Homo sapiens: one gene and its partner. The protein of the gene in region 1 purifies or fractionates together with the protein of each later gene. This does not show direct contact. Each region holds a gene or a part of one and is shown in the gene's direction. Other genes may lie near its edges.

Region 1 (3,500 bases):
TCTCTTATCCAGAGCAGAAGTCAGACTAGGGAAGCCACAAGTGAAAGCCACTGACTTCCACTTCTCCCTCCGTTCCTACATGCTAGAGGTGGTGATAGGCTAACTCTGAGTAGAGCTGACTTGGCTAAATCTAGTTGCAACTGACACCACAGCAGGAACACTATAAAAAGTTTATGAACCTCACAATATAAGATCACCATCATATTAATCTGCTCAGGCTACCATAACAAAGTACCATAAATTCATAGGCTTAAACAACAGACATTTATCTTCTCACAGTTCTGGAGGCTAGAAGTCCCAGATCACAGCCCAAAAGGGTCAGTTTCTGGTGAGGGCTCTCTTTGTGGATTGCAGACAGGTGCCTTCTTGCTGTATCTTTGCATGGCCTTTCCTCAGTACAGTATGTGCAGGTGGGAGGAGAGCATGCACAAGGTTCCTGGTGTCTCTTCTGATGAGTACATTAATGCTCTCAGGGCCCCAACCAATGACCTTATTTAACCTTAATTACTTTCTTGAAGGCCTCATCTCCAAATACAGCCACACTGGGTGTTAGGGCTTCAGCATATGAATTTTGAGGGGACACAAACATTCAGACTCCGTAACTCCATAACAGCCACACTTTTATATATTCTTAGCCAAAATCAAAAGTATATTTTGGGTGTTTGGGAAGTATAATAGTGCTTTAACAGAAACCAAGTAAGGGTGGTTTAAGTGGGTTCCTTACAGTTTCATTCTGTCTCTCATAAATTCTGAGCTGATACGTAGTCCTGAGATCATCTGAGGACCCAATCCCTTCTCTCTTTTTGCTGTACCATGAGCTGTTGACCGTGTTTGCATTGTCAGGTACTGGTGCACTGACAGTGTACTACCACTAGCCCATGGGAAGAGGGGACCAGCAGGAAGCAGCTTCGTTTTTAAGGACTTCACCTAAAGTTGTACACATCATTTCCAGTTGAATCCCATAGACCAGGTCTCTTGGCCACACCTAGCTGCAGAGGAGGCTGGGAAATGTAGCTGGGTGGCCATTTGCCCAAATCAAACCCTGGGGCTTTATTAAGTTAAAGAAATTAAAAAGAAATGGATGCTGCTGGATTAGTTACAGTCTCTATGCACTTGAAATTTTATGTATTAGTTTATTAGGACCAACACACACATTCAGGTTTATAGGAACTAGTAAATATCTTGTGCATGGCCCCAATTTATTAAGCTCTTTGGGAATTTCTTTTTGATAATTAGAAAACCAATATGCTTTGGGAAGTGTATTTTTTTTAACCTAAGGATATTTAAATCTATTTAAATAATCATAGTTACTTTTGTCAATGTAAAAATTAAATGTTGGTGCTCGCTTCAGCAGCACATATACTAAAACTGGAGCCACACAGAAAATTAGCATGGACCCTGTGCAAGGAGGACATGCAAATTTGTGAAATGTTCTATAATTTTTTAATAATTTTTTTAAGTTTTATAATATAAAAAAAGTTGTATTGTGATATCCTAAATGATTTGTTTCCTAATAAGAGCCTTCTGTCTCAGTGATAACCATTATGTAAAATACTGATTTTTATTTGCTACTAGGAAATGTAAGTTTAAAACTCAGACAGATGTTTATTCTCATGAAGGTGACATCACTAACAAAAATGGTTGATTATAGCAATATGAAGGAGATTCTGGTTGAATTTTCTAAAGATTTTCTCTTTGAAATATCTCTCTCTTCCTCTTCTGTCGTTAGCCTTAAAATATATAAAAATCAGTATTTGCTATACCTAATGTTTACTGCGTGTAAGTATCTATGTTAAATATGTGAATCAGGCCGGGTGCAGTGGCTCACGCCTGTAATCCTAGCACTTTGGGGGTCCAGGGCTGTGGATCAAGAGGTCAGGAGTTCAAGACCAGCCTGACCAACATGGTGAAACCCCATCTCTACTAAAAGTACAAAAATTAGGTGGGCGTGGTGGTACAAACCTGTAATTCCAGATACTCAGGAGGCTGAGGCAGGAGAATCGCTTGAACCTGGGAGGCAGAGGTTGCGGTGAGCCAAGACCATGCCACTGCACTCCAGCCTGGGCTACAGAGCAAGACTCCATCTCAAAAAAAAAGAAGAAAAAAATTGTAAATCAAGAAATCAAGGTTGAAGCGCAAACCAGGTCACTCTTGTACATGTAATTGCCATAAAAGCTAGCAGTTTTCAAATATATAAAAGCATAAGCTTTTTTAAAAAACAATTTTACTTAAAATTCCGATATAAAAAAGCAGATGAAAACAAAACTACAGTAGTATAGATTTATTTTGTAAATTCAAATGCAATCAGTTAATAAAAACAGTTAAGCTGCCTTGATAAATGTACATTTGAAATTGGGGGGTAATAGAAGGCCATTGCAGTTTTATAAACTTAAGTATCCAGTTTGCTTCTATATTTTGTTTAGGTTACATAATTTTTTTTCAGTTCCAAAAATGGTATCTTTTTAATAGCATGTCTCATCTTCAATTAAACCAATCTGACATATAAAATTAAGTGATAGAAAATTTTTGATTCAGTGTTGAGTCACTCACAGAACCTTATCACCTCTTCATACTTTGTTGTTGTTTCCCCAGAGACAGGATCTTGCTCTGTCACCCAGGCTGGGGTGCAGTGGTGCCATCTTGTCTTACTGCAGCTTCCAGTTCCTAGGCTTAAGTGGTCCTCCTGCCTCAGCCTCCTGAGTAGCTACAACTACAGGCACACACCACCACACCTAGCAAATTTTTGTAAAAAATTTATTGTAGAGATGAGGTCTCACTTTGTTGCTCAGGCTTCAAGCCATCCTCCTGCCTCAGCCTCTCAAAGTGCTGAGTTTACAGGCATGAGTCACTGCACCCAGCCCTCTTCAAACTGTTAATCATAAATATAAAAATCACACAAGAAGCACTCGAGGAACTCAAGCTTGGAATAAGTGGTAAAACTTTGTAATATAATAAGCATGGGACTCTATTATGGTAATTAAATTTCTTTAAAACAAATTCAGTTGAATATATTATAACATTGTAACTGTTACACTACATTATTGATTATTGGCCTCTCTTAGGAAGAATATGAAGAACTGCTTCATTATGCTATAGTGACTCCAAATATTGAACCCTGTGCTTCACAGTCATCTCATCCTAAGGGAGAATTGGTGCCAGATGTCAGAATTTCTACAATTCATGATATTCTTCATAGTCAAGGTTATATATATTTTTCAAGATATCTCTTAATTTAAAATATTACTGAGTTTATTAATGATACTGACAGGATTGTGAAAATGCCTGTCCAGATCAGTGATTCTTCTCAACCATTTATGTGTATTAGTATCATCTAGGGGAGCTTTTTACATTTTAATATATTATTCCTGACTCTCGTGTGACAGCTTGATTTTTCTTTGAACTTCATTTGACTCTTACTTTTATGAAGAATAATAAAGTTGAAGCAATGCTATGGCAACTGCATGGCTTTTTGGTATGTTGTATCTCAGTACTTGTTCCAA
Region 2 (3,500 bases), on another chromosome or scaffold:
TGAATGGTTCCTATGTATTTAGGAAGTTAAAGTTTTACTTTTTTTTAATTAATTTTTTTTTTTAGGCTGGAATGCAGTGGCACAGTCATAGCTCACTGTAGCCTCAGGTGTGTGCCACCATACCTGACTAATTTTTTAATATTTATTTTTGTAGAGATGAGAGTCTCATGTTGCCCAGGCTGGCTTTGAACTCCTGGCTTCAAGTGGTCCTCCCACCCTGGCCTCCCAAAGTGCTGGGGATTATAGGTGTGAGCCATCATGCCCGGCCTAGTTTTTATTTTTTAAAATTTGAGTGGGTTGTTCGTGGTCTCTGTCAGAGAGGAATCCCATTTAACAGAGAATCTTTTTATGGCTCTCCAGAGAAAATGAATGGTAAACTTATCTTTTCAACAAGCTCTCACTCAGAAATGATACACACACACTTCTGATAGGACTTTTAGCTTCTTTAACTTTGTTCCTTTCACTCATATCAGTGGTTCTTATTTTTGAGATACACAGTAATGAAGCCATGGGAGAAAGTATCTAAGTAGCTTTCTGGCAGTCCTAATCTTTGCAGGCGCAAGATTACAGGCGCATGCCACAGCACTGGGCCCCTTCTTGCTCTTTATTGTATAGCATTATCCTGCCTCATTGTTTCAACTCTAGGATTGAGAAAGAAGTTACCTTTTCTCTGTTACTGTCGCCTGGCTGGTTTGGACTCCTGCCTTCCAAAAACTGCAGTTTCTGTAGTTGTATTTGGAAATTTATTTCACAATACAATAAATTTCTGGCCCCACAAAATATTTATTAACTGCCAAGAATAACACATCTGTTTGATTGCTAAATATAACCATTGATTTGCTGTTTCACCTTCTCTCAGCTTTACTTCTTCCCAAATTCCTAAATTTCCTTCACTTTTTCTGAGATACATTAGTGGACTGTCTCTGCCTGTAAGTTAACTGAAACACTGATTCCTAGTATTTCAGTTGTTTTCCTCCAGCACTGTCATTGTCTGTGTTTGTTGGCTTTGTCCAATAATGGTCTATTGAGGGGTGAAGATATACGTAATTAGCTTTCTGCCTATTGGCTTGTACACTCCAGGGTATACTTGGCAGATCAGTCTTAACTCTTCTCACCAAGATCAGTCCAGTGCTGGATTAGGTAAGGTATGAACACATCAGATGTGCTTTTTATGGAGAAATCATGTTGGTTTACACGTCAGTGTGTGAGAATGTGGCAGAAGGGAGCTAAAATAGTATGATAATACTACTGGATAAATTTTGTGGTCTAACCTAAACCTTAGCCATTACATAGAATACTTTTGCTGTGAGCAGGTTTGCTCAGTTGTAAAACTGGAAAGGAATCATTTCTCACCCCCCGCCTCCAAGCTTTTTACCTCCAAACAGTGACAGCCACCCAAACATCAAGAGAACAGTGTTTCAGAGAACATTTCTACTGGGGCTTCAGGAGGAGCCTGTCCAAGATTTAGGCTGTTCAAATTATAAATTATAAAACAGCTGGCTCAAGCCCATTGTGTTTAAGTCAGAGAGTGCTAAGTATCTTTTCTTTTGTCTTGTCTCCCTAAAGTATTTATCTCATACTTCAATCAATTTAAAATATTTTTTCTTACAGATCCAATTTGATAGAAGAGTCAAGTTTGCCTAGAGTGGAGATTAAATCATAGTTTTATTTGAAGTATAATTTTGGCTTGCTCAAAATGAACAGTATCTGGTTATGACTAAGAATGGCATGAAAAGGCCAGACGCAGTGGCTCATGCCTGCAATCCCAGTACTTTGGGAGGCCAAGGCAGGTGGATCACCTGAGGTCAGGAGTTGGAGACCAGCCTGGCCAACATGGTGAAACCCCATCTCTACTAAAAATATAAAAATTAGCCGGGCGTGGTGGTGGGCACCTGTAATCCCAGCTACTCGGGAGACTGAGACAGGAGAAATCACTTGAACCCGGGAAGCGGAGGTTGCAGTGAGCCGAGATCGCACCACTGCACTCCAGCCTGGGTGATAAAAGCAAAACTCCGTCTCAAAACAAACAAACAAAAGAATGGCATAAACAGACACAGCTCACAGATGATCTAGTCTCTTTAGCCACTAATTTCATTATATTCTCACTATAATTTCTTTGAAAACAAAGGATGGGTTTGTTTTTTGCCCCTCTTTGCGCTGCTTGCCTTCAGATGCGGGATAATCCTGTTTCATTGGCCAAAGCATGGATTCATTTTGGAGGCCAAGGAAGATGCAAACACAGTGCACAGGGTGGAAGAGAAGCCTATGAATATGTTGGGGCTTATTAAATTTCCATAACTTCATTCTGATAACTGATTATTATACTTTCCAAAATAGCTGACAATTAAAAAGTACTGATTTGTTTGTATATTTTTGTCTTTTAAGGCAAGCAGAGTGCTGGTAGCATCCCGTAATTTTGCAAATGATGCTACATTTGAAATTAAGGTAAGAGGTGTTTTACTTTGTTAATAATTTTTTCACAGGTACACTCTGATATACAGTTTTACCTTTAGAATAGAACATTTTGATGTTCATGCTTAGTCATCATTTTCTTCTAAATGTTCCAGGATCAGAAGTTCAGAGAAGCTTCACGAAAACTAGAATTTATTATTAGCAGCTTGCTGTTGTTCTGTGGGGGGAAGGGGGAGGAGCTAGAAAATGAAAATAAAAATAAAAGCTTATTCAAAAGTTTGGAATGTAATTCAGTGAAATATTTGAATAAGAAGAGTCTTAGTTGTTTCTTTGAAGGTTCTTTCAACCTATAACTCAGTTGGCTTCTAGGGGCTTTCAGTGAAAATCATCTTAGAAAGATTTCCTTCCCCCAAGCCCCATCTCATTGCACAGTGAGGTTTATGGATTTAAGGAACAGAGGCGATATGAAGCATTACTGATGTGCTCCTTTGCAGTTTTTCAAGTTCAATATTATTTGCAATGGAGTTAGATCTTAGAGTGGTCAACAGTGTTTGCAATGTAGTATGTGGAGGATAATAACTACCTTATTCCATTTCAGAAATGTGACCTTCACCGGCTGGAAGAAGGCCCTCCTGTCACAACAGTGCTCACCAGGGAGGATGGGCTCAAATACTACAGGATGATGCAGACTGTACGCCGAATGGAGTTGAAAGCAGATCAGCTGTATAAACAGAAAATTATTCGTGGTTTCTGTCACTTGTGTGATGGTCAGGTGAGTGGTAGGTTTGTGGTGGAACTGTGTTATTTAGGTACTGAAGTATGGCTTGTACTTATTGGGCTTTACCCTGCCATATGTATCAGAAGAGTTTGAGGCTGGTAATGTAATTTTCTTTTATTTATTTATTTTTTTGAGACAGTCTCTCTCTGTCGCCCAGGTTAGAGTACAGTGGTGATCTTGGCTCACTGCAGCCTCTGGTTAGAGTACAGTGTGATCTTGGCTCACTGCAGCCTCTGTCCACTGGGCTCAAGCAATCCTCCCACCTCAGCCTCCCGAGTATGTGGGACCACAGGTGCACACCAACACACCC

The links. The genes of interacting proteins can lie anywhere in the genome.
Region 2: the proteins of POC5 (region 1) and PDHA1 purify together in Homo sapiens (co-immunoprecipitation; one large-scale study listed by IntAct). This does not show direct contact.

The regions. Positions count from the first base shown.
Region 1 is NC_000005.10:75,707,438-75,710,937, reverse strand, and holds part of POC5 (centrosomal protein POC5), read left to right. Parts: intron 1-3,062; coding exon 3,063-3,201; intron 3,202-3,500. UniProt on the Homo sapiens protein: Essential for the assembly of the distal half of centrioles, required for centriole elongation. Acts as a negative regulator of centriole elongation.
Region 2 is NC_000023.11:19,346,927-19,350,426, forward strand, and holds part of PDHA1 (pyruvate dehydrogenase E1 component subunit alpha, somatic form, mitochondrial isoform 1 precursor), read left to right. Parts: intron 1-2,385; coding exon 2,386-2,445; intron 2,446-3,010; coding exon 3,011-3,184; intron 3,185-3,500. UniProt on the Homo sapiens protein: The pyruvate dehydrogenase complex catalyzes the overall conversion of pyruvate to acetyl-CoA and CO(2), and thereby links the glycolytic pathway to the tricarboxylic cycle.